Homo sapiens: one gene and its partner. The protein of the gene in region 1 purifies or fractionates together with the protein of each later gene. This does not show direct contact. Each region holds a gene or a part of one and is shown on either strand. Other genes may lie near its edges.

What was found.
Region 2: the proteins of VSX1 (region 1) and USP12 purify together in Homo sapiens (affinity purification with mass spectrometry; 4 studies listed by BioGRID and IntAct, with this or other methods). This does not show direct contact.

The regions. Positions count from the first base shown.
Region 1 is NC_000020.11:25,079,342-25,083,270, forward strand, and holds the start of VSX1 (visual system homeobox 1), read right to left. Parts: upstream 2,801-3,929; 5' UTR 2,756-2,800; coding exon 2,332-2,755; intron 1,991-2,331; exon of another isoform or gene 1,927-1,990; intron 174-1,926; coding exon 95-173; intron 1-94. UniProt on the Homo sapiens protein: Binds to the 37-bp core of the locus control region (LCR) of the red/green visual pigment gene cluster. May regulate the activity of the LCR and the cone opsin genes at earlier stages of development. Dispensable in early retinal development.
Region 2 is NC_000013.11:27,095,312-27,098,811, forward strand, and holds part of USP12 (ubiquitin carboxyl-terminal hydrolase 12), read right to left. Parts: intron 520-3,500; coding exon 290-519; intron 1-289. UniProt on the Homo sapiens protein: Deubiquitinating enzyme that plays various roles in the regulation of the immune response and inflammation.

The DNA.
Region 1 (3,929 bases):
TCATGCCGGGCCATAAATTCTCAGATGCAGGTGCCATAAACCTTGGGCTGTGTCCCGAGGAAAGGCAGGCAGAGGGGACTGCCTGGCCCTATACCTGTGCCGCCGCTTCTTCCTCTTGCCCAAGGTGGGGGATGCCTTTAGGTCATTCCTGTCTTCAGACTGGCTGTCCTCATCTGATGGCACAGAAAGAAGAAGAGGACTTTAAGGGTGATCATATCCCCTCTATTTCCTGGATTTTAATGTGAGGATTGAAGTTATGAACCTCTTGGGTACTTAAGTAGTTTACAGTATGAGCCAGCATTTTTAGTGCCTACTAGATCCCAGGCTCTGTGCTTAACACTGTCCATACATTATCTCAAGTATTCTTAATATAATAATAAAACACCAAAATGGCTGCTGCTATTATTATCATCCTATTTTTACAGATGAGGAAACTGAGGCACCGAATGGTTAAGTAATTTGCCCAAAATCACACAGGTAGTAAATGGTGAAGTTGAGAATTCAAATCCCAGATTATCTGAAGCCAAAACTACTCAGCCACTGATTGCACTTTCTATCCCCACACTGCTTCCAAACACATCCACCCCTATGCCCCCAGCCTCATCATCTTAACCTCTACACCAACATTTCCCAAAGGAAGTCTGGGGCTTGTGACATCAGAACCCTCGTCAGAACTGCAACCCTTCCCTGATGCACCAAATCAGAATCTCTGGAGGTGGGATCTAGGAGGCTCATTCTTGACAAGTGTGCTCAGATGATGTGTAGTTGCCCTTGAAAATTTGAGAACCACTCCACTGTGCTTTACCTTTTTATATCCAATACATCAAAAAGTCTAGATGGAAAAGAAGGTTAGAAGGCCAAACTATTGTGAGATTCATTGCTAGAAGGCATAATTGCCTCAAAATATCTTTAAAATGAATAAAGGCAAAAATAACTAAATAATACTAGTTTTACTCATCCATCAATTAGTTCACCAGAAACCTGGCTTGGATTAAAACATTCTGTATTGGGCTGTCCAACCTGATGAGACATGAGACACATAAGGTTATTAAGCACATGAAATGTGGCCAGTAAGATCAAGACATGCTGTAAACATAAATCACTTAATGGAGTTAGAAGACTTAGTGCTCCTAAAAAGTAAAATATTTTTGTATTGATTATGTGTAAAATGATAATATTTGCTATCATTGTTGGGTTAAAATATAGTATTTAGATTCATTTCACTTTTAATGTGACTGTGAGAAATTTCCGTCAAACATGAAATCACATTTCATTTTTCTTGGACAGCTCTGCTCCAGACTTTCAGAAATGCTGGCAGAGTTGGATTTAGCTGCCTTTGGTTTTGTAAGAAAGAACCCATCCCATGAAAACAGTTTTGCATTTTTAGTGACACTAATAGGGAGTTTCATTTTATCTTACGTAGAGCTCATGAAATAAAGTCCTTTTAGAGTGGAGCAAAAACCTGCCTGCCTATTGATCTGACATGCTTCCTTTTAGTATCAGAAGACCCAGTCTACTCTTTTTGCCTTGGCTGCCTGGATGCTCAGCTCTAGATTCTACCACATACCATCCTTTCTTGTGTAATTCTTTCTTTTCTCTCCCACACCCAAAACCACTCGTTTCCTTAGCCCTTGTCCTTTATAGAATTTCATTGCTTCCTTCTCTTTCCCCGCGACCCGTCTGGATTTCTTTGGGGAAATGGGTAGGCCAGGAACACATCTCTAGGCGTAACTACAATGAATCCCCAAGGTTGCTTCTTTCTCCTGCACAGGGGACTGGGAGGACGCTGCGCCGGCAGAGGAGCGCGGTACCCGGGACTCCCTTTTCAGCACCCCAAGGGGCGGACAGTTCCAGGGCTCGAGGCCCCGTACTCTTCCAGGACCCGTCAATCATTCGATCATTTCCGCCCGCGTTTCCACCTGGTACCTTGTTCGGTGCTGCTGGTGACCACCACAGGCCCGGGCCTTCCCGACCCACGCAGCTGCCAGAGGCGGAGACTGGCGCCTGGCGCTGGGGGGAAAAATGGCCCTCTGGAGATGGTTGTTGAAGACCCCAGGGTCTCATCAAAAGGTTCCACCCGGAACCAGGTGGTGGCGGTCTCACATCGCTGAGGGAACAGGACCCCGGATGAGAGGCAGGGATTTAGGATGCAGCAAGGGGCAGGCGGCGCAGCTCCGCGAATGCCCCTCCCGCGACGGGGCCTCGCTCTGGGCTCCCCGCCTAGATCTGGGCCGCTGGGGCCAGGGGTGCGGTGGGGCGATGGTCTGTGACCCCTGCGCGGCTCAGAGCCTAGGGGACAGGGGCAGGAGCGGAAAGCGCGGGCCTGATTACCGGACGTGGAGACGCTGTCGCTGCGCTTCTGGCGGCCGAGCGCAGGCGGCGGACGGCTGGGAGCCAGCGGGGCAGCGGGCTCGGGGCCCCTGGGCGGCAGGAACGGCACGTCCGCTAGGAGCAGGCAGGGTGCTCGAGCGGCCGCCGGCGGCTGCGTGCCGAAGCCACAGAGGAGGCCGAGTCCCAGCGGTAGGGCCCCACGCGCCAGGCTGGAGCCGTCAAGCCCCGGGCCCGGGCACGGCGCGACTGCCGGACCCTCGCAGCCAGATCCCTGTCCTGGGCCAGCGGGCGCCGGCAGCTCGGCCTCCAAGCCCAGCAGGTCCGTGATGGCGAAGCCCCGGGGGCGCGAGCCCCTAGGGGAACCGCCAGGCACCAGCGCCCTGCTGCTAGTGCGCCCGTCGGAAAGCGAGTCCCGGCCGGTCATGGTTCCTTAGCAAGCAAGGCGCGAGCCTCTCTGGATCCCGTTTGCGGAGGGCCCAGCTTAGAGGAAGCTTTATAGGATTGGGCTGCCGGTCGGGCGCGGGAGGCCTGAAGGGCTCCAATCAGCTGGGCGCGGGCGCGTCGCCGTTCCGGACCCCGCGAGATGGGGACGCCACCAGTTCCCCTCCCCTCGGTTACCGCCCACCCAGCTGCAGTCCCCTCAGTCACCTCCTTCTCCTCCTCTCTTCTGTCCAGCCCACCCCACCCCACCCCACCCCCATTCTAGGAGGGAGGGGAGGAAAGAAGGTAAGGGACAGTGACTCCGCTGTCTGCCTGTCCCTCGAAAAGTCGCAAGTTCTACATCCTGGCGTGGCCTTCTCCTTCCTTCCAGACTCTCTGGGTGGAGGCCCCACTCCCAGCTGCCCTGAAGCTTCTTTGATGCGACCCAACTGCCTATTAAGACCTAGGACCCCATTCCCAACCACACCCCGATGGCTACCCCATATATGTCCCCAGCCAGCCCTCCACCTCCGCCGCCGGTGCCACGAAGGCCTTCCTGTAAGAAGGCCTTCTCTGAAAATCCCCAAGGGGAAAGGAATGAAAACCGTGTATTTAATCCATGGTCATCCTACCTCCATCCCTTTAATCCATGGTCATTCTACCTCCATCCAAATCCACCCCCAGGTCCATCCCCAACACTCCACGGGCTGAACTGTAGGGGGTGGCAGACTCACAAGAGCTGGGGAAAGGGAGAGAAGCAGAGAGAGGAGTGGACTGCCCGGGGCTGAGACGGGCAGGGTACCAGGTTTAACCAACAAAACACTGTCGGCTCAGTGAAATGTGATTTCAGATAAAAAAGGAGGGCTTTTTTTTTTTGTAGGAGTATGTATCAGTATTTTATCCAGCAACCCTAAATTGGGGAGGAGTGGAGGGAGGTAAATTGAAATAAAATAGAGTCTGTCTACTGGAAAGCACACCTTTTCATCGGGGCTTACAATTTATTGTCCAATTTCACGATTATTCAAAGAAAGCCTGATTCTTTGAATAATCAGTGAAACTCTGATATTCGCTAAAGTTGGCCCCAAGCACGTGGGTAAGTAACTACTGGTTCGCGCTTTGAACCCAACCAGCCCTCATCGCTCGGAGCCCTGCGTCCCCCGCTTCCCAATCCCAGAACC
Region 2 (3,500 bases), on another chromosome or scaffold:
TCATAAGACATAATTTCCACAACATGGTTCTATGGCCTCCTAAACTGAAAGAAAATCAAACAGTTCAAGCTACAGTAAGTATCTTTCTATCACCTCAGGTATTCATTGTCAATAAGCAACATTACATTAAGAATACAGACAGATTCCTTTTAACTGAAAAATACATCTTTAACTCCTATACCTAAGAATTACAACTTTCAAGTTCATCTTCCATTCTGTCTTTCTCAAAGAACAACCTTTAACATAGTAATTCAATTTTTCTCTATACAAAATTGTATGATATACTTACAGTTTCACAAGTAAGACATCTGGTTTCATTAGTTAATGTTCCCTGAAAAATCTCATGAACCCACGTTGGGTCTGGTGTGCTGTTATTATTTTCATTATCAATATTACCATTAGGTAAACGACCATTTTGTTTTTCCTGCTTTCTCTCTTCTTGTAAAATATCAGCAATTGTATTTAGTAGGTAATTTAAGAATTCATGGGCATCTTGTTGCATGTAGTTGTCAAAAAGCTCTGAAAATAAAAACATTATATTAGAGAATTATTTCAGAATTCATAACTTCATAAAAAACCAATTTATAAAAGAATATCTAGTATTGGATCAGAACTAAAATATAAATGCACAATGTTTTTGTAATGTATAACAAATAACTTTCGCATCTAAAACTTTTATCTGTATTTGGGGAAAATGTAAAATTAATTAAAATCTTGTTTAAAAATACTACTAATTGATCCTGAGAAAAGGGCAAAACCTATCCTTATATATTGGCATAACAGATACTGAGAATTTAAGAAGAAATTGCTTATTAGCTTACCTGACTTATTATTTCACAAATATTTCAACTTGGCAAGCTTTAAAGCAGAAGTTGGACAACCATTTGCCAATGCCAAGCCAACTGCTTTAGACCCACAAAGTTTATCAAAAATAAATTACTGAACCATACATCCCAGGGATTCTGATTTAGTTGATAAGGGGTAAGCCCAGAACGTGGGGCTTTTCAAAGCTCCTCCAACTAACTCTGATGTAGAGTCAGGTTTAAGAATCATGTTATCAAGAATTATCTATATAATCCAGATAATCTCAAGTCCCTTCCAAATGTGAGACTTTATAATTCCACAAAACGTTCCCTGCAGTTACACAAATGAGTAAATATAACTGAAATATTGGTGGTGCTAACATCAAGCGTGCTTTACCCTGTGCTTGGCAATATACAACTCTACCATAGAACAGTAAGGACTTTAGAGGCAGTATCTCATTTGATCCCCAACAACCATGTAATATTGTTATTAACTTTATTTGTAAACATGAAAATGGGACGAGACAGAGTACAGTCACACTGCCAAGAAATGGCAGAGCCAGGATTCAAACTGGGCAGCCTGACTCCACCATGCCACACACAAAGTAATGCCCAGTATAAGCCCACACACAAGAACATACATGAATTGGTCAATAAAATGCATTGAGAAAAATTACCTATTTAGGACATTTTATTTTTAGATCCTCAATGTACATTTAATAAGTTCCAGAAAGATTTTACATTTTAAAAATGAATGCATACAAATTTAGAAAAAAATTTAGGGAAAGTCTAAGATAAAACAAATTAACAATTACATTTTAGAAGAGATACAGATATGACTACATAAAATTAAGTTCTATGTATTAGAAATCTTTAAAAAAGTTTTAAAAAAAGTGAAACCTGAAAATTATTAACATTTTCAACATATAAAAGCAAATCTCATATAAAAGAAAACCAAACTGGACAATCTTATAAATGGCAATCAATTTATAAGAAAAAAACAATCAAAAGGCTAAAAAACATGAGAAAATGTTCAATCCCATAGTAAGTTTAAAAAAAAAAAAAAAGCAGGCCAAGCGCAGTGGCTCATGCCTATAATCCAGCACTCTGGGAGGCCAAGGCAGGTGGATCACCTGAGGTAAAGAGTTTGAGACCAGCCTGGCCAACATGGTGAAAGTCCGTCTCTACTAAATACAAAAAATTCACTGGGCATGGTGGCACATGCCTGTAATCCCAGCTACTTGGGAAGCTGAGGCAGAAGAATCGCTTGAACCCGGGAGGTAGAGGTTGCAGTGAGCCGAGATTGCGCCATTGCACTCCAGCCTGGGCAACAAGAGCAAAACTCCATCTCAAAAACAACAACAACAAAACAGAATACCATCTTTCTTTGCAAAGTCATTGTAAAAACAGAAAGGGAATGAGTGAAGCTTTTTATGGGGGTAGGAGGGCACAGCTGCTAGAGCAAGGCTGTCTGGGTTGGTGCTATGGTTCTACTTCTAACTGCACGCGTGGCATAGGCAACTTATTCAAGCTCCCTGTTCCATAATTCCTCATCTGAAAAATGGGGCTCACAGCAGTACCTGTACCTCACAAGGCTGGGAGGAAGATTAAAAGTGCTTAGAATACAACAATAGGTTTTGTATTCTGTTCAACAACAACCACAGTAACAATATTGGCAATATCACTACATGTTGAATATCCTTTATCTAAAATGCTTGGGACCAGCAGTGGTTGGGACTTCAGACTGCTTCAGATTTGAGAATATTTTCATACACATAATGAGATATTTTGGGGATGTGACTCAAATCTAAACATGAAATTCATTTGTTTCATATACACCTTATAGCCTGGAGGTAACTTTATATAGTACTTTTTTTTTTTTTTTTTTGAGATGGAGTTTTGCTCTTGTTGCCCAGGATGGAGTGCAACTTCATATAGTATTTTTAAAAACTTTGTGCAGGGAAGTAAATTTGTGTACACTGAACCATCAGAAAGTAAAGTTGTTACTACCTCAGCCACCCCATGTGGCATCATGCAGCTCAAAAAGTTTCAGATTTCTGGATTACGGATGCTCAACCTATATAATTGTTGTTGCTACTGAACAGAATACAAAACACATCAAAGACTGACTATGTAAAAACTATGAACTTCTGTATGGCAAAGTCAACATAAATGAAGACAAGTGACGAACAAGGATAATTATTTGCATATTAATATCCAGACTATGTAAAGGTTTAATATACAGAATATTTAAAAAAAAACCCTTTACAAAACAAGAAAAAAAATTTTAAAAACTGGCAAAGGAAAATAGCCAATTCAGAGTAGAAATACAAATGCCTAAATAATACATGACAAGGGACTGGGAAATAACAATTAAAACAATGACAAAATATCATTTTGCCCATCACTTTGGCAAAATAAAAATTGACTTAGTTTCCATCCAGTGTTAGCTTGAGTATGGAGAAATGGACATTCTCAACTGTTGCTGCTGGGAGTATAAACTGGTATGGCACGTTGTAAAGGCAATTTTGGTAACAGATTTAAAATAATGCAACCTAGTTCTCCCAGGTATCGATGCCAGGTAAGTATCTGTGCATGTACCAAAACAAGCATAAATACGGCTGCTTATTTATAACAGCAGAAGTCTGAAAATATCCTAAATGTTTATCAACAGGAGAATGATTTATTTAAATTATG